Homo sapiens: one gene and its partners. The protein of the gene in region 2 purifies or fractionates together with the protein of the main gene of each other region. This does not show direct contact. Each region holds a gene or a part of one and is shown on either strand. Other genes may lie near its edges.

What was found.
Region 1: the proteins of ACKR2 (region 2) and CMTM6 purify together in Homo sapiens (affinity purification with mass spectrometry; one large-scale study listed by BioGRID and IntAct). This does not show direct contact.
Region 3: the proteins of ACKR2 (region 2) and TRPM4 purify together in Homo sapiens (affinity purification with mass spectrometry; one large-scale study listed by BioGRID and IntAct). This does not show direct contact.
Region 4: the proteins of ACKR2 (region 2) and TMEM87A purify together in Homo sapiens (affinity purification with mass spectrometry; one large-scale study listed by BioGRID and IntAct). This does not show direct contact.
Region 5: the proteins of ACKR2 (region 2) and TMEM126A purify together in Homo sapiens (affinity purification with mass spectrometry; one large-scale study listed by BioGRID and IntAct). This does not show direct contact.
Region 6: the proteins of ACKR2 (region 2) and RFT1 purify together in Homo sapiens (affinity purification with mass spectrometry; one large-scale study listed by BioGRID and IntAct). This does not show direct contact.
Region 7: the proteins of ACKR2 (region 2) and PGAP4 purify together in Homo sapiens (affinity purification with mass spectrometry; one large-scale study listed by BioGRID and IntAct). This does not show direct contact.

What each region holds. Positions count from the first base shown.
Region 1 is NC_000003.12:32,489,353-32,492,852, forward strand, and holds part of CMTM6 (CKLF-like MARVEL transmembrane domain-containing protein 6), read right to left. Parts: intron 2,535-3,500; coding exon 2,358-2,534; intron 1-2,357. UniProt on the Homo sapiens protein: Master regulator of recycling and plasma membrane expression of PD-L1/CD274, an immune inhibitory ligand critical for immune tolerance to self and antitumor immunity.
Region 2 is NC_000003.12:42,864,616-42,867,786, forward strand, and holds the end of ACKR2 (atypical chemokine receptor 2), read left to right. Parts: coding exon 1-1,042; 3' UTR 1,043-2,671; downstream 2,672-3,171.
Region 3 is NC_000019.10:49,160,792-49,164,291, reverse strand, and holds part of TRPM4 (transient receptor potential cation channel subfamily M member 4), read right to left. Parts: intron 1-3,500. UniProt on the Homo sapiens protein: Calcium-activated selective cation channel that mediates membrane depolarization. While it is activated by increase in intracellular Ca(2+), it is impermeable to it.
Region 4 is NC_000015.10:42,238,934-42,242,433, forward strand, and holds part of TMEM87A (transmembrane protein 87A isoform 1 precursor), read right to left. Parts: intron 799-3,500; coding exon 737-798; intron 1-736. UniProt on the Homo sapiens protein: Potential monoatomic ion channel gated by mechanical force, implicated in normal touch sensitivity through the generation of mechanically activated currents.
Region 5 is NC_000011.10:85,654,005-85,657,042, reverse strand, and holds the end of TMEM126A (transmembrane protein 126A), read right to left. Parts: intron 2,981-3,038; coding exon 2,787-2,980; intron 1,450-2,786; coding exon 1,335-1,449; intron 735-1,334; coding exon 542-734; 3' UTR 501-541; downstream 1-500. UniProt on the Homo sapiens protein: Protein required for the cotranslational protein quality control in the inner membrane of the mitochondria.
Region 6 is NC_000003.12:53,090,210-53,092,435, forward strand, and holds part of RFT1 (man(5)GlcNAc(2)-PP-dolichol translocation protein RFT1), read right to left. Parts: coding exon 2,160-2,226; intron 1,862-2,159; coding exon 1,694-1,861; 3' UTR 1-1,693.
Region 7 is NC_000009.12:101,474,922-101,477,173, forward strand, and holds part of PGAP4 (GPI-N-acetylgalactosamine transferase PGAP4), read right to left. Parts: intron 2,249-2,252; 5' UTR 2,172-2,248; coding exon 960-2,171; 3' UTR 1-959. UniProt on the Homo sapiens protein: Golgi-resident glycosylphosphatidylinositol (GPI)-N-acetylgalactosamine transferase that catalyzes the N-acetyl-beta-D-galactosamine transfer from an UDP-N-acetyl-alpha-D-galactosamine to the 4-OH-position of the first mannose of the glycosylphosphatidylinositol (GPI) of a GPI-anchored protein (GPI-AP).

The DNA of each region.
Region 1 (3,500 bases), about 10 Mb from region 2:
ATGTAAGAGGTTTTCTTGCCGGGCACGGTGGTTCACACCTGTAATCCCAGCACTTTGGGAGGCCAAGACAGGTGGATCACCTGAGGTCAGGAGTTCAAGAACACCATGGCCAACATGGTGAAACCCTATCTCTATTAAAAATACAAAAATTAGCTGGGTGTGGTGGCAGGCACCTGTAATCCCAGCTACTTGGGAGGCTGAGGCAGGAGAATCACTTAAACCCAGGAAGCACAAGGTTGCAGTGAGCCGAGATCGTGCCATTGCACTCCAGCCTGGGTGACAAGAACGAAACTCTGTCTCAAAAAAGAAAAAAAAAAAAAGAGGTTTTCTCTGCTTCTAAAAGGTGTTTCCCTGTAGTACTTTATTTTTTAATCCTTTTGATTATTTCAAATTTATTACATATAAATATAAAATTCTATTTACTAATATTTGGAATACATTCAAGTTAATTGAAACAAGACAATCATTTTTAGACCATAATGTAGTGTTCAATAAACGGGTTCTAGAGCCAGTCTACCTGAGTTCAAATCTGAGCTATACCACTAATAAATGTAAACGTCCCAAAAATGTTGGCTACTGTTGTTCTTAATAGACTCCGACTGCAATAGCATGGGATAGAAGACATTCTCTCTTAAAAAATATTATTCCTTTGGGAGGCCGAGGTGGGCGGATCACCTGAGGTCAGGAGTTTGAGACCAGCCTGGCCAATATGGCGAAACCCCATCTCTACTAAAAGTACAAAAATTTGCTGGGTGTGGTGGCACACGCCTGTAATCCCAGCTATTCGGGAGGCTGAAGCAGGAGAATCGTTTGAACCCGGGAGGTGGAAGATGCAGTGAGCTGCTATTGCGCCACTGCACTCCAGCCTGGGTAACACAGCAAGACTTCTCAAAAAAAAAAAAAAAGTTATTCTTCTTTAGGCACCACCAGTACCACACACTCAAAACACATTCCTCTAAAACAGAAAACCTCTCTTGCATGAAAAAATATTTAAAACCTAAGTGTATTAATATGCAGACAGTAAAAAGTGATTTTGAAACCCTGCAAACAAACATGAAATCCTTATATTAGGTAAAAAGTAGAATATATGTTCTATGATTACAAATATTTTAAATTTTAAAACTATGAATGGAATAAAAAGACTTGAAAGGAATACAGCAAAATAATACAAAAGCTATTTTAGGATGGACTAATTTTTCTTTTTTCTCAGTATTTTTAAACCAGTATTTACTCTAAAATGACTTTTTAAATGCTCAAGTTTGATATAATAAAGGTTTTACTTTTTTTACGTTACACCATTATACTACACTGGACAATATTATAATACCATTTCTTGTCAAAATGATCAGTGTGCTTTAAACACTACAGATGCAGCATTAAAATAAAAACTAAACATTTCTAAAAATATTTTTATGGTGATATTGTTTCACTGTTAAGAAATGACAAAATGATTTCAATCTGTAATTTTTTTAATATAAATTTTTCCAGCCAGAATTTGGAATATATACATTTTTTTTTACACATTCAAACTATAAATCAACCAGCTCAGACACTTGAGAACTTTTCCCTAGTCCAAATCTTATGGCATATTAATCTGTAAAAAAGAAAAATGTCCAAAGACTACAAATATAATTAACAAAAATTCTAAGGATTATCTGTATCCTCTTAATATATATTTCATAAAACAAATGAGTCCTGTTGTCATTGTCATAGAAATTCCTATAGTGATGGCATTAGCCATGACAGCACCTCAAGATGGTAGGGCATTGGTTCTAACAGGATTCTGCTCCTAGCAAACTAACACAGGAACAAATGCATTCTTAATTCACTTATAGACAACTTTTCATAATACCATTAAAGCAAAATATAGGAAGAATTACATGTTGTTTTATTTTCCCCAATCACTGAAGCTTTAAGCTTTAAATGTTGTTTTATTTTAAAGCTCCAGAAATATTTCACATTAGTTCATTACTCTATCTCCAATGTCTAGCATATAAATGCCTGGCATATAATAAAGGCACACAATTAATAATTGTAGAACCAATGAGTGACACTCAAAAGTGAGAAATCAGAAGTGACAAAATCCTAGGCTTTTTTAAGTCTAATGTGAATTACATTAAACCACCAATAACTGTAAACTATTGGCAGTGTCTGTCACTCTCATTCTAATCTCACTTTCCCTCTCTACCATCCCCTTGGTAGGAAAAAATGAGGTGCTTAGAAGCAGAGCGAGTTGGAACAAGGGATACTGTCTTTTCATGTTGCTGAGTTTTGAAAACATTACTGCTTTGAACAATAAAATTATGCCAGATTACAAAACAGCTATTAATACAGGGATGATATTTTCTCATGCTTACCGATGATTTTACTTTTGTGGTATCAACTCTCTCATAAAATGGAGTGCAATACACAATCAGTATAAGGAGACTCAGAAGAAAGGCACTGCAGCTTACAAACTCAAAAAAATAAAGTCCTCCACATAAAGTACATTGTGATACAACTTCTTCACAGATGAAGGCCAGCAGAGACAGCAACTACAAATGAAGCAAAACATTTTACTTAAGTGTTTTTTCAGAGAATCTACAGTATTTAGAAAGCTGTTTCTGAATAATACGTTTACTCAAATATTTACAATGAGGAGACTATGGCAAACAAGATTAATGAATAAACCTTATCTACACAGAACTTACAGTTTGGCCGCCTTGAAGGAAATACAGGTAAATAAAGAATTAATTAACCTATCGTGTACTAATGCCAGCAAAGGGGAAATATATAATATTGTTATAAAAGCACACAGGAGAGACGCTCAACTGCGGGGTCAGGAAAGGCTTCCTGAAGGAGAAAGCTGAGACCTGAAGAACAGAGTCAGTTTGGGGGATGAAAGATTAAGGAAAGAAATTCCCAGCAGAGAAGCAGTATATAGAAAGGCCAGAAATGAGGGAGCATGGCACCTGCCCTCTGACCCAACATACAGACAACACACACCCCGACCTCCAACTTAACTGTCAAAGTGAGTCAAATCAACATGGCTTAAGTATAGAGTTTAAGGGAAGAGAATGGCAGCACAAAAATTAGTATATGAGGCTAGAGAGGTAAGCTGAGGCCAGATCTAAATGTCCTCGTTAATTAAGAGTCTGGATTTTAAAGTAAAGGTTGACAATGATCAGGTGTATGCTTTCAGTAGTTCTCACTGGCTACAATATGGAGAAGGGACCAGAGGTAAGGCAAACCTTGGGGCGGACATCCAACTGGGAAGCTGATGTAGGAAATCAGGGCAAATAATAGCGACTAGGGAGCAGCAATAGAGAAGAGTGGCAATCACTGAGAGATGCAGCAGAAGCTCTTATCAGACAAGATGCAAAAGCTCATATCAGACAAGATGCATACAAATAATATGGAACACAAGATAACACATGTGTACCTTAAACATTTTAACTTAAAAACGCACATTTATTAACAATCTGCTGAAGTGAGTATTTTCTTTATGGGTCTACTGACGA
Region 2 (3,171 bases):
GGATGCAGTGGTGTCCTTTGGCAAAGTCTTCCTCCCAGTCTTCTATAGCCTGATTTTTGTGTTGGGCCTCAGCGGGAACCTCCTTCTTCTCATGGTCTTGCTCCGTTACGTGCCTCGCAGGCGGATGGTTGAGATCTATCTGCTGAATCTGGCCATCTCCAACCTTCTGTTTCTGGTGACACTGCCCTTCTGGGGCATCTCCGTGGCCTGGCATTGGGTCTTCGGGAGTTTCTTGTGCAAGATGGTGAGCACTCTTTATACTATTAACTTTTACAGTGGCATCTTTTTCATTAGCTGCATGAGCCTGGACAAGTACCTGGAGATCGTTCATGCTCAGCCCTACCACAGGCTGAGGACCCGGGCCAAGAGCCTGCTCCTTGCTACCATAGTATGGGCTGTGTCCCTGGCCGTCTCCATCCCTGATATGGTCTTTGTACAGACACATGAAAATCCCAAGGGTGTGTGGAACTGCCACGCAGATTTCGGCGGGCATGGGACCATTTGGAAGCTCTTCCTCCGCTTCCAGCAGAACCTCCTAGGGTTTCTCCTTCCACTCCTTGCCATGATCTTCTTCTACTCCCGTATTGGTTGTGTCTTGGTGAGGCTGAGGCCCGCAGGCCAGGGCCGGGCTTTAAAAATAGCTGCAGCCTTGGTGGTGGCCTTCTTCGTGCTATGGTTCCCATACAATCTCACCTTGTTTCTGCATACGCTGTTGGACCTGCAAGTATTCGGGAACTGTGAGGTCAGCCAGCATCTAGACTACGCACTCCAGGTAACAGAGAGCATCGCCTTCCTTCACTGCTGCTTTTCCCCCATCCTGTATGCCTTCTCCAGTCACCGCTTCCGCCAGTACCTGAAGGCTTTCCTGGCTGCCGTGCTTGGATGGCACCTGGCACCTGGCACTGCCCAGGCCTCATTATCCAGCTGTTCTGAGAGCAGCATACTTACTGCCCAAGAGGAAATGACTGGCATGAATGACCTTGGAGAGAGGCAGTCTGAGAACTACCCTAACAAGGAGGATGTGGGGAATAAATCAGCCTGAGTGACCAAATTTTGGTCTGGTGGGAACAGATGGGAACCAGCTCAATTGGGTGTCCACTCAAAGTGCTCTCTCCAGGGGCCTCAGTGACTGTGTTGCTAAACCCAGTGGTCAGTTCTCAGTTCTCAGCCATCAGCAGCATTTGCTCGCCCCGCCTTCTTCCTCCACTTTCTTCACTTGCTTCCAGGATACCACGCTTTCTTTTCTGAATTGCTACAATCTTTCTTCCTTCCTTCCTTGCTTCCTTCCTTCCTTCCTTCCCTCTCTCCCTCCCTCCCTCCCTCGCTTCTTCCCTTCCTCCTTTCCTCCCTTCCTACTTTCCTTCCTTCCTTCTGACAGGGTCTTGCTCTATTGCTCTGTCACCCAGGCTGGAATGCAGTGGCGAGATCTCCGCTCACTGTAGCCTCCTCCCCCTGGGTTGAAGCAATTCTCATGCCTCAGCCTCCCAAGTAGCCAGGACTATAGGCACCTGCCACCATGCCTGGCTAATTTTTGTATTTTTTTTCTTTCTTTCTTTCTTTTCTTTTTTTTTTTTTTTTGAGACGGAGTCTCACTCTTGTTGCCCAGGCTGGACAACAATGGCGCGATCTCGGCTCACTGCAACCTCCACCTCCCGGATTCAAGCGATTCTCCTGCCTCAGCCTCCTGAGTAGCTGGAACTACATGCGCGTGCCACCACGCACAGCTAATTTTTATAATTTTAGTAGAGATGGGGTTTCACTGCGTTGGCCAGGATGATCTCGATCTCTTGACCTTGGGATCCACCCGCCTTGGCCTCCCAAAGTGCTGGGATTACAGGTGTGAGCCACCATGCCTGGCCCTAATTTTTGTGTTTTTATTAGAAACAGAGTTTCACCATGTTGGCCAGGCTGGAGAATTGCTGTAATAGTTTTCCAACTGGCCCCTGTCCTTCCTCTCTCTTGCTCTCCTCCCATCTCATCTGCACCTAGCAGCCAGAGTGATCCTGATACTCTCGGCCTTTACTTCCGCCTCCCTCAGAGCAGCAGCCTGTCAAAACACCAGATTACAACAAATTTAGTTTAAAGGTCTCAATTAGCGTTATTGGCAATTCTAGAATCAGGCAACAGACTCATTGAATCAGGAACAGATTCACTCCATAAAATACAGAGAGTGCTGCAATGAGCTGGGTAGAAGAGGTTAGTTTTATAGACAGGAAGGGGCTGTCAAAGGCAGAAAGAAATGAAGAACAAAAAAAAAGATTGATTTTTTTTTTTTTGAGACAGGATCTCACTCTGTCATCCAGGCTGAAGTCCAATCCCACAATCATGGCTCACTGCAGCCACCACCTCCTGAGCTCAAGTGATCCTCCCATCTAAGCCCCCAAGTAGCTAGGACTACAGGAGCACACCACCACACCTGGCTAATTTTTGTATTTTTTGTGGAGACAGGGTCTCAGTATGTTACCCAGGTTGGACTGGAAACCCTTGGCTCAAGCAATTTGCCTGCCTCAGCCTCCCAAAGTGCTGGGATTACAGGCGTGAGCCACTGCACAGGGCCAGATTCATCATTTCAAAGTTACTTTCTATATGCGGCCGGAACAGGGTGGTTGACATCAGTTTTCTTCAGGTTACTTTTTAATAATGATTAAAACGGGGAACTTCATTATCATGAGCATGGTTACTGTCTGCATTATTACGCCAACTGAAACTGTCATGTTTGGGAATTTGGCTGTTAACTCTGTCTCCAGGAGTCTCAAAGGTCAGATAACAACTTAGTTTTGGTTTGAGGACATGGAACTTTAATACGACAGATTCCATTTTGGTTTGGTCTGGTCAGCTGGGACCTAGTGCAGGAGGTTAGTCCAAAACAATGGCCTTCCATAGTTTTTACTTAACAAGCCCAACTCCTTACGGTAATCCTTTAAGGCCTATGTGATCTGCCCTCACCCTGGCTACACTCTTTGCCCTTATGTCCACCAGCCTCCAGTGCTCCAGACACAACTGATCTCAAATACTCCTGACACATCCCCCTGGGGATTCCTCTTCCTGGATTGCTCTCCTCTCAGCTGTCTGCTTGGCTCACTCTCTCACCTTCTGAGGTCTTAGCTCAGATACCACCTTTCACTCACCTGTCCAACCTATTTAACACAAACTGGCCCATCTCTGACGCTC
Region 3 (3,500 bases), on a different chromosome or scaffold from region 2:
GGGAGGGAGGGAGGGAAAGAGAGAGAAAGAAAGAGAAAGAGAGAAAGAAAGAAAGAGAGAGAGAAAAGAAAAGAAAAGAAAGAGAAAGGAAGAAAGAAGGAGAAAAATGTATCTAAATTCTTTGTTCCAGATTCCAGGAGTTCAGATATCAGGGGAGACCTGTATTTACACAAACCTAGTGAGCAGATTTAAGAGCAATTTTACAGAAGGGATAGCAGAGGTGCTACAAGGATTTGGCAAAAGCCGTAAAGACACTAAAAGAACGGCTAACTGATCCACACATGGGATGAACCAAACACACTTAGGCCAGGTCCTGGCACAGTGAGAACTACAATAAAGTGTCTTCTTCATTCCTGAGTCTACCTCCAGGGCCCTGGCATGCCTCAGTTTACCGACTTTGTCCGTTCACCCATTTCAGCTCCATCCTTGAATCCCCTAGTTCCCCTGCAGCTACTTCCAACACCTGCAGCTACTTCCCAGAAAGTTTGCTCTTCTGAGCAAAACTTCAAGGACGGCTGGGCACAATCCAAGCACTTTGGGAGGTCAAGGCAGAAGGACTGCTTGAGCCCAGGAGTTTGAGAACAGCCTGGGCAATAGAGCGAGACCCCATCCCTACAAAAAAAATTGTTTTAATTAGCCAGGTGTGGTGGTGCACGCCTGTGGTTCCAGCTACTCAGGAGGCTGTAGCAGGAGGATCACTTGAGCTCAGGAGTTCAAGGCTGCAATAAGCCATGATCACACCACTGCAGTTCAGGCTAGGCAACAGAGCAAGACCATGTCACTAAAAATAAGAAATAAGGCCGGGCATGGTGGCTCATGACTGTAATCCCAGCACTTTGGGAGGCCAAGGCGGGCGGATCATGAGGTCAGGAGTTCGAGACCAGCCTGGCCAACATAGTGAAACCTTATCTCTACTAAAAATACAAAAATTAGCCGGGCATGGTGGTACGCGCCTGTAGTCCCAGCTACTCAGGAGGCTGAGGCAGGAGAATCACTTGAACCTGGGAGACGGAGGTTGTGATGAGCAGAGATTGTGCCACTGCACTCCAGCCTGGGCAACAGAATGAGACTCTGCCTCAAAAAAAAAAAAAAATAATAATAATAAAATAAAAGCTCTTCACGGAATAGTCTGGAGCTTGTACTGTCCAATGTGATAGCTGCATGGGTTCTTTGTAGCCATGGAGCTCTTTCTGTTCTAATAAGTTAAAATTAAATCAAATAAAAAATTCAGGTCAAGTGCAGTGGTTCATGCCTGTAATCCCAGAACTTAGGGAGGCCAAGGTGGGCGGATCACCTGAGGTCAGGACTTTGAGACCAGCCTGGCCAACATGGTGAAACCCTGTTTCTACTAAAAATACAAAAATCAGCTTGGCATGGTGGCGGGTGCCTGTAGTCCCAGCTACTCGGGAGGCTGAGGCAGGAGAATGGCATGAACCCGGGAGGCGGAGGTTGCAGTGAGCCAAGATTGCACCACTGCACTCCAGCCTGGGCGACAGAGCGAGACTCCACCTCAAAAAAAAATTCAGTTTCTCAGGTACAATGGCCATATTCCAAGTGCCCAGTAGCCCCCTGTGGCCAGGACTGCCATATTGGATGTAGACATAGAACGTTTCCAAAATCGTGGAAAATTCTGACATTCAGTGCTAGGAGCCATTCCTTCTGCACAGCTTGCCTCCTACACTCTTTCCTCGGTGGAGCCACAGAAACTGAAATAAATTGTTTTTTTGTTTGTTTGTTTGTTTTGTTTTGTTTTGAGATGGAGTCTCGCTCTGTCTCCCAGGCTAGAATGCAGTGGTACGATCTCAGCTCACTGCAACCTCTGCCACCTGGGCTCAAGCGACTCTCGTGCCTCAGCATCCTGAGTAGCTGGGATTACAGGCATGTGCCACAGTACCTGGCTAGTTTTTGTATTTTTAGTAGAGATGGGGTTTTACCACATTGGCCAGGCTGGTCTCAAACTCCTGACCTCAAGTGATCAGCCCACCTCGGCCTCTCAAACTGCTGGGATTACAGCTGTGAGTCACTGTGCCTGGCCTGAAATTGTTCTTGATAAAAATCATCAATTTCCTGCCTGGCTCCATATACAACGGCCCTTATTCAGGTTTCATCTGACTGTATCACAAGTGGCCCTGGCTACAGCTGAAAGGCTCTCATTCTGGAAACCCTCTCCTTGGCAGGATACCCCTGCCCCTCTGGCCTTCCTCCCCGCCCCGGCTGCTTCATGCCTGACTTGTTTGTGGCTTTCTCTTGCTTTTCACCTCCCTTGAGTGTAGGTGTTCCCAGTGCAAGCCTTCCCTACATGATTCTCAAACCCAATGTGTGCAGAGGCCAGTCAAGTAACTCAACAGAAAGAAGTAGCCAGGGCCAGGAGCAGTGGCTCACACCTGTAATCCCAGCACGTTGGGAGGCCCAGGTGGGCAGATCACTTGAGGTCAGGAGTTCGAGATCAGCCTGGCCAACATGGTGAAACCTTGTCTCTACTAAAAGTACAAAAATTAGCCAGGCGTGATGGTGGGTGCCTGTAATCCCAGCTACTCGGGGGGCTGAGGCAGGAGAATCGCTTGAACCCAGGAGGCAGAGGTTGAAGTGAGCCGAGATCGCACTACTGCACTCCAGCCTGGGTGATAGAGCGAGACTCCGTCTCAAAAAAAAAAAAGAGGTAGCCGGGTATGGTGGCTCTCGCCTGTAATTCCAGCACTTTGGCAGGCAGAGTGAGGTGGGAGGCTCACTTGAGTCCAGGAGTTGGATACCAGCCTGGTCTGGTATCAAAGGGAGACCCGGTTTCTACAAAAAATTTTAAAATTAGCCAGGCATGGTGGTGCATGCCTGTGGTCCCAGCTACTCCGGAGGCTCATGTGGGAGGATCGCTTGAGCCCAGCAGGTCAAGGCTGCAGTGAACCATGATCGTGCCACTCCAGCCTGGACAACAGAGCAAGACCCTGTCTCAAAAAAAAAAAAAAAAAAAAAAGAGAGAGAGACAGAAGACAGATATTTTTAAATGCTCTTCTAAACACACACACACACAAACACACGCACACAATTGGCTATAGAATTGCCAGTTTGCAACTCCCCTGACTTTACACGTTGTTTTCCCTGTGACGTCTTACCTACTTCCAGTTTCAATTACCAGCTACAACTCGGACCTCTCAGATTCTGGACATTAGTCCAGACCTTTCCCAATCTCAGTCCCCACATGCCCCTCGGTCCCCCTAGGCCGCTCATATGCACAGATTCCCACATTGCACTCAGCGACATTTCCCAAACCTGCTTGCCCTCCTGAGCTCTCCATCTCAGGGACAGCCCCACTGTGTCCCAGTCAGCAGAGCATACGTCCCGGAGCCATCCACCGATGGCGGCACCCCCTCTCTCCCTCATCACCCTCATCAAGCCCCAAGCTCTGCCTTCCTGCCCCCTGAGTCTTTGCCCCATGCCCTCCTCTCTGTGTCCCGAAAGCCCTGACCTGGCTCAGGCCACTACCCCTCCCGCTCAGACGCTCTCTA
Region 4 (3,500 bases), on a different chromosome or scaffold from region 2:
AATTGAAAATATATTAAGGATATTCTGAGACACAGACGTATGCACACATACATGTATGTGCACACATACACACATACACACACAAAATGAAGAGAAGGGAGCTTCATCATTTTGTTAATTTTTTGTTGTTGAGACAGTTTCACTCTGTCGCCCAGGCTGGAGTGCAGTGGCAAGATCTCAGCTCACAGAAGCCTCTGTCTCCTGGGTTCAAGCAATTCTGCTTTAGCCTCCCGAGTAGCTGGGACTACAGGCGCCTACCACCACGCCCAGCTAATTTTTGTATTTTTAGTAGAGATGGGGTTTCACCATGTTGGCCAGGCTGGTCTCAAACTCCTGACCTCAAGTGATCTGCCCGCCTCAGCTTCCCAAAATGTTGGGATTACAGGCATGAGCCAGGGCACCCAGCCTCATTTAGTTAATGTAAGTGGGATCAGAAACAATAGAGTTGTAGTAAAAAGTGCCCCACTATGCATCCTAGAGAGAATGTGAGATGATCTTTGAGGTATTTCCACAGGTCACTGACCCCTTCATTATATGGATAAGAAAATGAGGCACACAAGGGTATACTGACTCTCTCAAAGTCCCAGTCTAATAAGAAATAAATCCAGGACTACAAGCAACATTTTCTGAATTGCACAGGAACAATTCATTAAAAAGAATACTGCCACAAAACATGGGACAATCTTTGAACCCAAAACCATCCAATACTGAGGTTAAATAATATAAAGTCACTTACAATCATCAAGGGATAGTCTTCAAGTGTGAGGTATTCATAGGGACCCTTCACTTCAACAGTCACTGCCAAAACAGAGTCCTCAGAATTAATTTACAGGATGCAGAAATTAAACAAAAATATTGCCTAATATTTGTTTAATGAACTTAGTAAGAATTTCATTGGGTCATTTACTTTTAGGCACTTCAATCCTGGTCAATATTACATTATATTTGTACAGCACTTGGAAAGTCATTAAGTGTCCTCATAGTTCATGCTGTGTCCTGCACAGGTTTCCATGCCTCCACCATAGTCTGAAGTGGGAAGGCTCTTTTGTTTCCATACTCACATCTTAAAAAAGACTAGATTGAATATTTCCTCCACACAGCCTTCTCTGGCTGCCCATCTGGAACAACTCTACACATACTCTAAATTCTAAACATACTTCATATATACTTTTCCTTACAACACATCAGTAAAATATGCCTTACAGGACTTCCTTTTTACATATTGCCATCTTCTTTGTTTTCTATCTTTCCTCACCTGTATTTTCCTATTGCTTTACTATTTTTTCATGGACTCCAATTTTCTTTTATTGCTACATTCATGTATCATTTTCGGAATGAAGGCATTGGAAAAAAACTTAAAAATTTAAATTAACTCACACAAAAAAATATACCATCCCTCATACAAGATTGAAATCTAGCTTCACAATCAGGTACCCTAGATGCTCACTCCAAAATAAAAATAACTCAAAAGTTCAGATGCTTCAAGGCAAAGCTCCATCCAATAAACATAGAATTGAACTTCCCCAAAACCTGCTAGTTAACATTTTTCAAAGAATTTGTTAATAACAAAGTGTTTAATGAGACAGATAAAGTAACAGTAATAACATATATCTGAAAGACATATTTGCCTTAGTAAAGCAAACATTGACTAATTTTAAGATTATCTGTAATTTTAAAAACTATTTCAAGATGGACTATTTTATTATTGTATTGATAAAATAATTTGGATAAATTCTAGGCATAATTAATAAATAAAAATCTGACTTGAGTGGTGATCATCCCTAGAGACAGACTAATAACTGTTCATTCAACAATTCCCTACTAGCTTCTGATATACCATTATTTAAAGTAAACTACATCCAATACTTACATGAAAAAAAGAGCATTCCATAAGAGCAATTATAAAAATTTCAGAGCAGAACTATTATTAAATCTATACCTTCCTAATTCAATAAAAGAGTAAACAAAATAATTAGTAAATACTTGGATCATATTCTTTGCTTACTCTATGCCTTGGTCAGCAAAATATAGCACATGGGCCAAATCTGGCCACCAGCTTTTTCTGTTAATAAAGTTTTATTGGAACACAGCCACATCCACTCATTTACATATTGTCTACAGCTGCCTCTGCACCACCTCGCAGAGTTGGGTAGTTATAATAGAGAAAAAATTTACTACCTGACTCTTTAAGAAAAAAATTTGCTAGCCCCTGCTCTATGCTAAAATATACATTTACTAAGCACTTATTATTTGACAGGCCTATGGAAAACACAGCAGACAGAAACATGAGTAAGATGTTTTCTGCCATCAAATGGGTAACCACCTTGCAGGGGAGAGGGAGTTGACAAGCTACATAGAGAACTATCCCTCTCAGCCAGACTAGAAGGATAAGTAGAGAACTATCCCTCTCAGCCAGACTAGAAGGATAAGTATGTATTTTCCAGAACAAAGTAAAAAGCCTTCTAGGTAGAGGAAATAACATGAACAAAACAGCTGTGAAAATGTGTGGTATATTTAAAGAACAAATATAGTCTGAGACTGCATATAATACCATATAGTAGTGGTGTTTTGACATAAGGCAGCAAAAGGTAAACTGGGACCAGTTGTAAAGAGTTTTATAAACCTTGCTGCAAAATGTAGTCATTTTATAGGCAATGGGGAGCCATCCATTAAAGGTTTCGATGAAGGGAAGAAAAATGATAAAACTGTATTAGTGATGATGTATCTTCTCCATTCCAAAAAAAGACGGGTATTTTTAAAATGAAAAAACAAGGCCAGGTGCGGCGGCTCACACCTGTAATCCCAGCACATTGCGAGGCCAAGGCGGGCAGATTACTTGAAGTCAGGAGTTCAAGACCAGCCTGGCCAACATGGTGAAACTAAAAATACAATCTACTAAATAAAAATCTAGTAGATTTAATAATTTAGCAGATAAATAATAATTTAGTAGGTTGTAAAAACACAATGTACTAAAAATACAAAAATTAGCTAGGTGTGATGGTGCAGGCCAGCAATCCCAGCTACTTGGGAGGCTGAGGCAGCAGAATCACTTGAACCCAGGAGTCAGAGGTTGCAATGAGTCAAGATCACACCACTGCACTCCAGCCTGGGTGACAGAGTGAGACTCTATCTCAAAAAAAAAAAGAAAAAAAAAAAGAAAAAGAAAAAAACAAAAAAGGATATAAGCTCAAAAACAAGACAGACATTTCCAAGAATCAAAACAGAAACTCAAAACAGTGCACGAGGCCGACTCCATGATCATGTTGGGCTCTTGGGCCAGAAGCAGGCTATGGTAGTTGGAAGTGCTGTCCCTATGGGATCTATGGTAGTTGGAAGTACACTACCAATGTACTACGGTAGTACATGGGATCATTGAAGCTAGTAGGTTTCAAAGAAAAAGAAGAGGGACCAGAGCCAGGCTGGATGCATGAAGAAGCTGAAGTAGGGTGGAATAAAGCTTCTCTTCCAGCCTTTTCAAAGAAAGAAGGTTGAAAATGAAC
Region 5 (3,038 bases), on a different chromosome or scaffold from region 2:
TAAACTAAAAATACAGCTTTCTAAATAAGGTGACTCGAAGTAGGTAGGTCTATATCATAATAGCTGAAGCTGAGCCTGAATGACTCAAGAAGATGATTGATTTGAGGAAGGTTGTTAAATCAGTTCTAAGAATCTATGGATTAATAATTTGAATTGAGAAAGTGAATTGTGAGTAACATTTGGTATAGTATATTGATAGATATTTTTTCATTTTTTATTCCTGTTTGTCATTATGAAGTCTTCAGTGTAAAATACTATATAGTTACTTTTTCCTCTTGTGTTACAGACCAAACTCAACGCCTAAGGTAGAACAAGCAAGGTAGAAGAGACAATACTGGGCAAACTCGTGAAGTTAAACTTGTTTAAGTGGGTAGCTTTTACTTAGATTCAGCCTTTTGTTGCCCTGTGTAGCCTTTTGTTGTAGGTCCCAGAATTATACCTCGTGATAAATTACAAGTCTATGTTTATGCATAACATTAGACATAACATTAGACATAAACTGTTTTTACCATTTTATTTTTGTTTACATATTTGTTTAAAATCAGTGAATTTCTTTGCCAGGTTCAGATAACTGAAGGGCCTTTATAAGTAGTTTATATTGTTCAGACCCAAGGTATGCTGAAAACATAGTCTGGAGCAAAATAGGAAATAACATCTTTCTAAAGACAGGCTTAGAAGTTCTAATCCAGTAACTTAAGATGTTCCCTTTGTGTGGTAACAGAGCTGATTGATACCTGTAAGAAAACATTGAGATAGTTCAATAGAAAAGATTGTTGCATCAAATGGCAAACCCATCTGTGATACATATTAGTCCTAGAAGTCTTAAGATAAAACTGAATATTAAAGTAAAGGTCTTCAGTGTCTATTAATCCTAAAAACTTTTGTTTCTTTATCCAGTTTGCTTCAAGGCTATAGCATAGATTGCTGATGCAAGAGTTCAACAGAGAATAGCCAGAATTATTTTAGAATAGAAGGCTAATATAACAGCTAGACATTTTCTGATGGAATTTTCCTTTAGTGCAAGTGTTCAAACTCATCCAAGATAATTGTTTATATGATAGAAGTTTCATGCATAATACTGTTTGCAGCTTTGTAGTTAGTTTAGTATTCAGTACACAAATTAAGGTTAATAGCCTAACTACACACCAAGTATAACTGTTTGAAATTCTTGATAAGTAGAATTTCATTATAAGAAAAAACAGGTCTTGCTAACTTCTAATCAAGAGGGTAACATTGCCTTTGGTCTAAATGCCTTAAAAACAAAATATATTTGCTGCTTTAAGTTGTGAGTTTTATAGGTAATCACATATTATAAAAAGTTTTTTATTTCCTACCTGGCTGCTAGACCACCATTTACAGGTATAGCCAAGAAAACAGGGTATAGACCACCAATAACAAGACCAGTCAGTCCACTCCGTGTTATGGTACAGGTTTCACAATCCAAATCACCTAGGAAATAAATTAGTCATAGAAATGAAGGTCATGATAGTCAAGCAAACATGATTTAAAGAATGTAAGATCCTCTTTTGTGTATCACAGGTATTTTTCAGGTAATATATCAAATGTAATTGTACAAAGCCTGTTAAAAGGTATAATTACATCTATGAGTAACTTAAAATAGCTAGGAATAATTGGTAAAACTATTTTAGGAAAAAAAGTTCTCTAATTTGTTCTCAACTTAGATATAATAATCTCATGGTTTGGGCTACTGCTAGCTTTCTGCCTTGTTTTTTATCAACAGACCTAGGCTAATATTTTCACTCAGTCTGTTCAATTAAATGGGCGATAGGTCTTCCTTGATCATAGAAATTGTTTCCACTGGTCATGGGAATTAAAACAAAATACTCGTCAAATTTAAACAAATTTGGAGCAGCACTTAACAAAATTTAGATGGACTGCCTTCCCTAGCACCCATGGTAATATTTTTATTTGAAATAATTAATCAAAAGTTTTTTTTATGATTAACTGTACTCAAAGTATTCAGCACACATGGTAGATTTTCAAAAGGAAATCAAATCTCCATGTATTTGATAAATGTATATGCATTTAGTGCTTTAAGAGATTTACTGTATAAAGAGTTATTCCCATAAAAATATTTTCCCCCTTTAAGGAACTTCTCTATAAAATATAAATAAAAAATCTAAGGTAGCCAACATATTATTTATATACATTTGTATATATATAATATTTCCATATATATAATTTTCATATATATGTATATATGGATTTCCAAATATTTCTTACTCTAAATGAGCACTGTGAGAAAGATATGTTAGAAAAAGGGAAGTATTGCCGGGTGCAGTGGCTCACGCCTGTAATCCCAGCACTTTGAGAAGACAAGGCGGGTGGATCACCTGAGGTCAGGAGTTTGAGACCAGCCTGGCCAACATGGTGAAACCCTGTCTCTACTAAAAATACAAAAAATTAGCCGGGCATGGTGGTGGGCACCTGTAATCCCAGCTACTCAGGAGGCTGAGGCAGGAGAATTGCTTGAACCCAGAAGGTGGAGGTTGCAGTGAGCCAAGATTGCGCCAGGGCACTCCAACCTGGGCAACAAGAGCAAAACTCCATCTCAATTAAAGAAAAAGTATTTAGAACTGCTGTGTATGTGCATCTTGGTTGGTAGACCATACTAATATGAATTATTTGCCACATTATATAGGCTAGCAAGATTTAATCTTAACTGCATTACAGCATACAGCTACTTGATATTAATAAGTATGGACTAAAGCTGCAAATAACATATACTAAGGCAAACTCTTTGGTGATAGTGAAGTAGAATTTACCTGTATTCAAAGGAAAACTTACAAAACATCTGTAAGTTAAGTCTGTTGTAAGAAAAGGTATCCCTGCCATTGGTAAGCCAGCAGCTATGCGAGCCTTTGTCACATTCAAGATGCGTCGAAAAAGACTGTTTGCTATGAGGCCACAAAGAGCAGCATTTAATCCAACATAAACCGATCCATTTTCAAGTAGATTCCTGAAAGGGTGAGAAGAAAGAACTTTTCTTTGGCATTATTGTGTGTGTGAGCTTTCCC
Region 6 (2,226 bases), about 10 Mb from region 2:
CGGGATAGGTGCAGGGTTCCGGGAGGGTGATCAGCAGCTGCAGAGAAGCAGCTCATGAGGACTGAAGGTCCCTTTCTGTGGATGCCAGGGACAGAGAAAGGACATGGGAGGGAAGGAGGACTGCCTTCCGTGTGTGCTCCACTTGACCCTATGGGACCATCCATTTTTCTGAGCTGGCCTGACCTTGCCCGATGAAGGCATGACTGAGGCCATGCTTTGGAGGTCCTCTAATTGCTCAGGACACCTTGCATTTAGCTGCTTTTCTCCCACTTAGTGCAAAGCATTCTCCCTCTGAGTAGATAAAAACCTGCCAGGTGACTGGGCCCCAGTCTTGGTGTACTGACAGGTCTTAATCCTTAGCCCCTGGGTACTGGCTCTGGGCAAGCAGATTTAAATACATGCATTTTAATGCATGATAGGAGTTGCCCTTACTGGCCCTCTCTCTAGGTGTAGACACAGAAGGTTTGGGGCACTGAGTGACAGGATTATTAACATCCAAGTTATAGTTTGTGCATATAGTTCTGAGGGGGGTTAATATCTAAAAGGAATTAATACATTAACAAAAAAATAAAAACACTTCACACTCCAGAACACTGCTCATGATTTCACCTGCAGTGTGCAGGCTGCAAGGTGCAGAACACCTGGGCTCACACTGTAGCCTGGAGTACCAGGCCCCCATGCCTGCCACTCTTGTCCTGGGGCTGGAATTTGGTTGTATTGATCAATGCTGGAATTAATGGGTCAACGGGAGGGACCTGACTCAGTAATACTAGCCATATAGAGTTTGCCTTGTCTTATTCTGAGGATAAAAAAGTACATCTGTTAAACCTTATCTGTCACCAGTGCAATTCCCATGTGAGAAGTTACAGAAAGCTGCAAAGCAGCATTCCCCTCAGGGACAAAGTGGCTCAACTGGATCACAGTTTTCTTCAAAGTCCGCCTCTTGCAGGTGGCCAGGCCAGGAGTCTCCAGCCAGCTTTCACCCACCCTTCAATCAACAAATCCTGAGAGCCCACTCTGGGTCAAGTATGTGCTGACCTGGGGCGGCGGGGAACAGTGTGATCACGACAGGCAAGATTCTCCCGAACTCACTCTGGGAAATGTGATCTGAAAACCTTCCTGGTTTCATTTCTTGGATTTCTCACTGAGTAGCATTTTTCCTTCTCTAAAAACTCAGACCACAGTTTTGACACAAAGAAAGCCACAACTTCAGGGCCACACTCTGTTTCCATGTGGTGCATGAGAGAGAGAGGTTTCTCTCTCTCTTTTACAGAAGAAGTTCAATATTCCTGTGAAGGGTAAAATCACTGCATCTCTTTTTCTGGGCCAGATAATTATTAACAGTTAACAATTAAGATATAGTTTGTTGGAGCATGTAGCTCCAAAGGCCAATCATACGCAAAAGGAATGAGTATATTAGTAAAAGAGAAAATGCTGATTACTATAAAATGATAAAAAACTATTATTTTTAAAGGGCTTTTGGTCTTCACTTAAAAATGAAACTCCCCCCCCGCATTTCAGACTTCGAATGGTCACAGGTGTCTCATGCAGTGGCACTCTCTGGTGCCTCATCTCTGGGGTTGCTGTCACTCCGCTGCAGAGCCCTCAGTGGGGCTCTTACACAGAATGTGTTCCACCCACAGAACTACCCATAGCTGGTCCAGGTGCCTCGGGTGTCCAGGCTTCCCTGAAGTCATGTCATTTTGTCAGTGCGTCTGGGCACACCTAACTGAGTCCTGAGGAAATGGATCAGCTTGGTCTCTGTGAGGAATGCTGTCCCGAGAGTTGCTCCCAGACAGAAGGCCCCCACAGCAATGTGTGCCAGTCTGGCTGGCCAGCCCTGCTCACAGCAGAGGAATACCTGGGGAAAGAAACCATTGTCAGTGCCTGTTCCTCAGTCTATACCTCCTTCCTCTGGGACCAGCCAGGGAAGACAGCTGTGGTTCCAGCTTCTAAGTCAGATAAAAGGCATAACAGCCATACTGCAGGTCCATTGTTTCCCCATTGGCAACATTCTCTTGTCACATTATCAGAAGATGCTGCCCTAGAGGCCTGGGGAGGGGACAGGAGGAGGCAAAAACCTGGGAAGAGGAGGCCTAGCGGGAGAGACAGCGGGGCAGCTGCAGAAGCATGTGGCATGATGGCTCAGGGAGTCTCACCTCCGAAACAGCAGTAACCCCACCACTGAGGGCAAATGTCCCGAGCAGGACTGGCGATAGGTGCAGG
Region 7 (2,252 bases), on a different chromosome or scaffold from region 2:
GTCACGTCGTTAGGCCATGGCAGAGATCTGAAATAAAAGGTCAGGTCTTCTGACTTCAGTCCATGATTTTTTTTTTTTTTTTTCTATAACATCATGCTACCTAGAAGAAAAAGAAATGAAGGTAAGCAGTCAGCCAGGAAAGTCAGGAAAAATGATATGCTACTTGTAAAGAGCTCCCCTATATTGTATCATTCTGAAATGTCCAATTTTCAAAGAGTCAGAGTAGTACAGAAATGTTCAATGTTAAATCACTACTCAACATAAGCAATCTGACTTTGATGGTTCACAAGCTCTTCCAGATCTTGTCGTGCCTTAAAGTTCTCACTAACAATATCAATTATCAGTGCACTACAGATATATAGGAAAAGAAAATCCCAGGTAACAGAAAAGCCAGATCACCTGCCTCCAAGATGCCGGGCACTGCACGGCTTTTATCAGTTTTTATTACATCAGGTCAAGGAAACAAATGGAATCTATCCACATGGTCCTGCCTCGTTGGGCATATATTCTAAACATACATCCATTTTCATACCCAATGAGAAAGAACTCAATTCCAAAGGATCTCACCTTTCACAAAATTCTACCCTTAAGATCCTAAAACAGTCATATCACTGTGCACAAAATTTTTGGCAGTCACAAGCTCTAACACAAAGCAGAGCTTAAAAACAAATGGAGAATATAATCAGTGTTCAAATGCACCCTCACTGGGTGGGTCAGACTGCATGAGGCAGTGTGGCTGTGTGGAGGGAGAGGTCCGGACCTGTGGCAAACTGCTGCTCCTGCCAGGAGGCTACCAAAGCCAAGGCTCTTAACATATTGAGGTTCCTCAGCTGCCCCAGTGCCTATATCTCTAACAACAGTAAACAGTGAAATACCTGCAGGCAACCATGTCTAAATAAAGAGATAAATATTTGAATCTTCAAGAAGTGGCCAACTTCAGAAAGGCATCTCTTGGCACCCTAGAGGAGACTGGGATGAAAGTTGTACCGGAGACTGGAGAAGAGCCCGATGTGTTTCACGAGGTTCGGCTCCACTACATAGGCCCTCTCTCCCTTGGCCCTCAACAGCGAGTACAGTGCCATGTCCTTGCCAAAGCCCTTGTGGCAGTACACTTGGGACAGGTAGGTGAGGGTCCGGCGGGCCGCAGGTGCCGGGAAGAGCATGGCTGGGGTGCAACACTGAGAGGCAGGAACCACACTGTACAGGGAAGGACTCAGCCGCCGCAGTTCCAGGAAATAGTGCCGACCCACCAGCTCCACCAGACCCATGCTATACAGGGAGAAGAAGAGCATTACAGGCCAGCTAAACCCTGGGCGGCTGGCAAACCTCATGTATATCCAGGTTAGTAAGGGCCCCAGCAACATGCCTACACCAACCCATTCCAGGATCCGCATGGGCTCTGGATTGATGTAGTGCTGGAGCCTCTCGGGGTGATACAGCTTGAGATAAAGGGCATCTCTGAGATGTGGCTCAGAGAAGCGAGCCCGCAGAAGGTGCTCCAAGACTGGGAAGATCTGCTCTTCTGGTACAGCATCGTCTTCTACCATCAGGACGTAGTCTGGGTTGTAGGTCTGCAGGGATGACTCCAGGCAATAGACATAGTCCTGCTTCTCTTTCTCAAACGAGTTGGTCGAAGGGTCATCACCATAATCATCCTCAGTGCCCTCATAGCGATTGGCCACAGGGACATACTTGGAGAGCAACTTGGCATCAAAATGGCTCACACTACGCTCCACGTTGCACAGGAAGAGTTGGTGCCCCTCGCACTGGGGGCCACATTGCTGAAGAAGCCGGTGGAACTGGGACACAACCTGCAGGACGTAGTGGAAGCCAGGCTGCCTGTCCACAGTGATGATGGTGATCACCAGCCAGGGCCGGGGGGTGGCCTGCCAGACAATGGGCACTGAGCCATTGGCAGAGGGAAGCTCCTCAAAATAGTGGAGGGCAGCCTCACCCTCTTTCAAGCTTTGCTGCAGGAACTCTTGGCTCATTTGGTTCAGATGCCAATGGCGCAGATAGAAGTAAGAGTGTAGAAGTCGGTGACAGGCCAGGGGGGCCAGCAGGCCAAACGTCACCACTGTTAGGATGAAGAGCTGGACAGCAGTGCTGCCCCAGGAGAGTCGCCGCAGCCTCCGGAGGAGCATGGCAGCTGGAGAGGTTGAAGTGCTCATGAGGTCAACTTTTGTTCATGTCTGGTCCCAAGAAAAAACCATCCTGGAACTCAGGCCAGAGTCATCAGAAATCAAACCTAA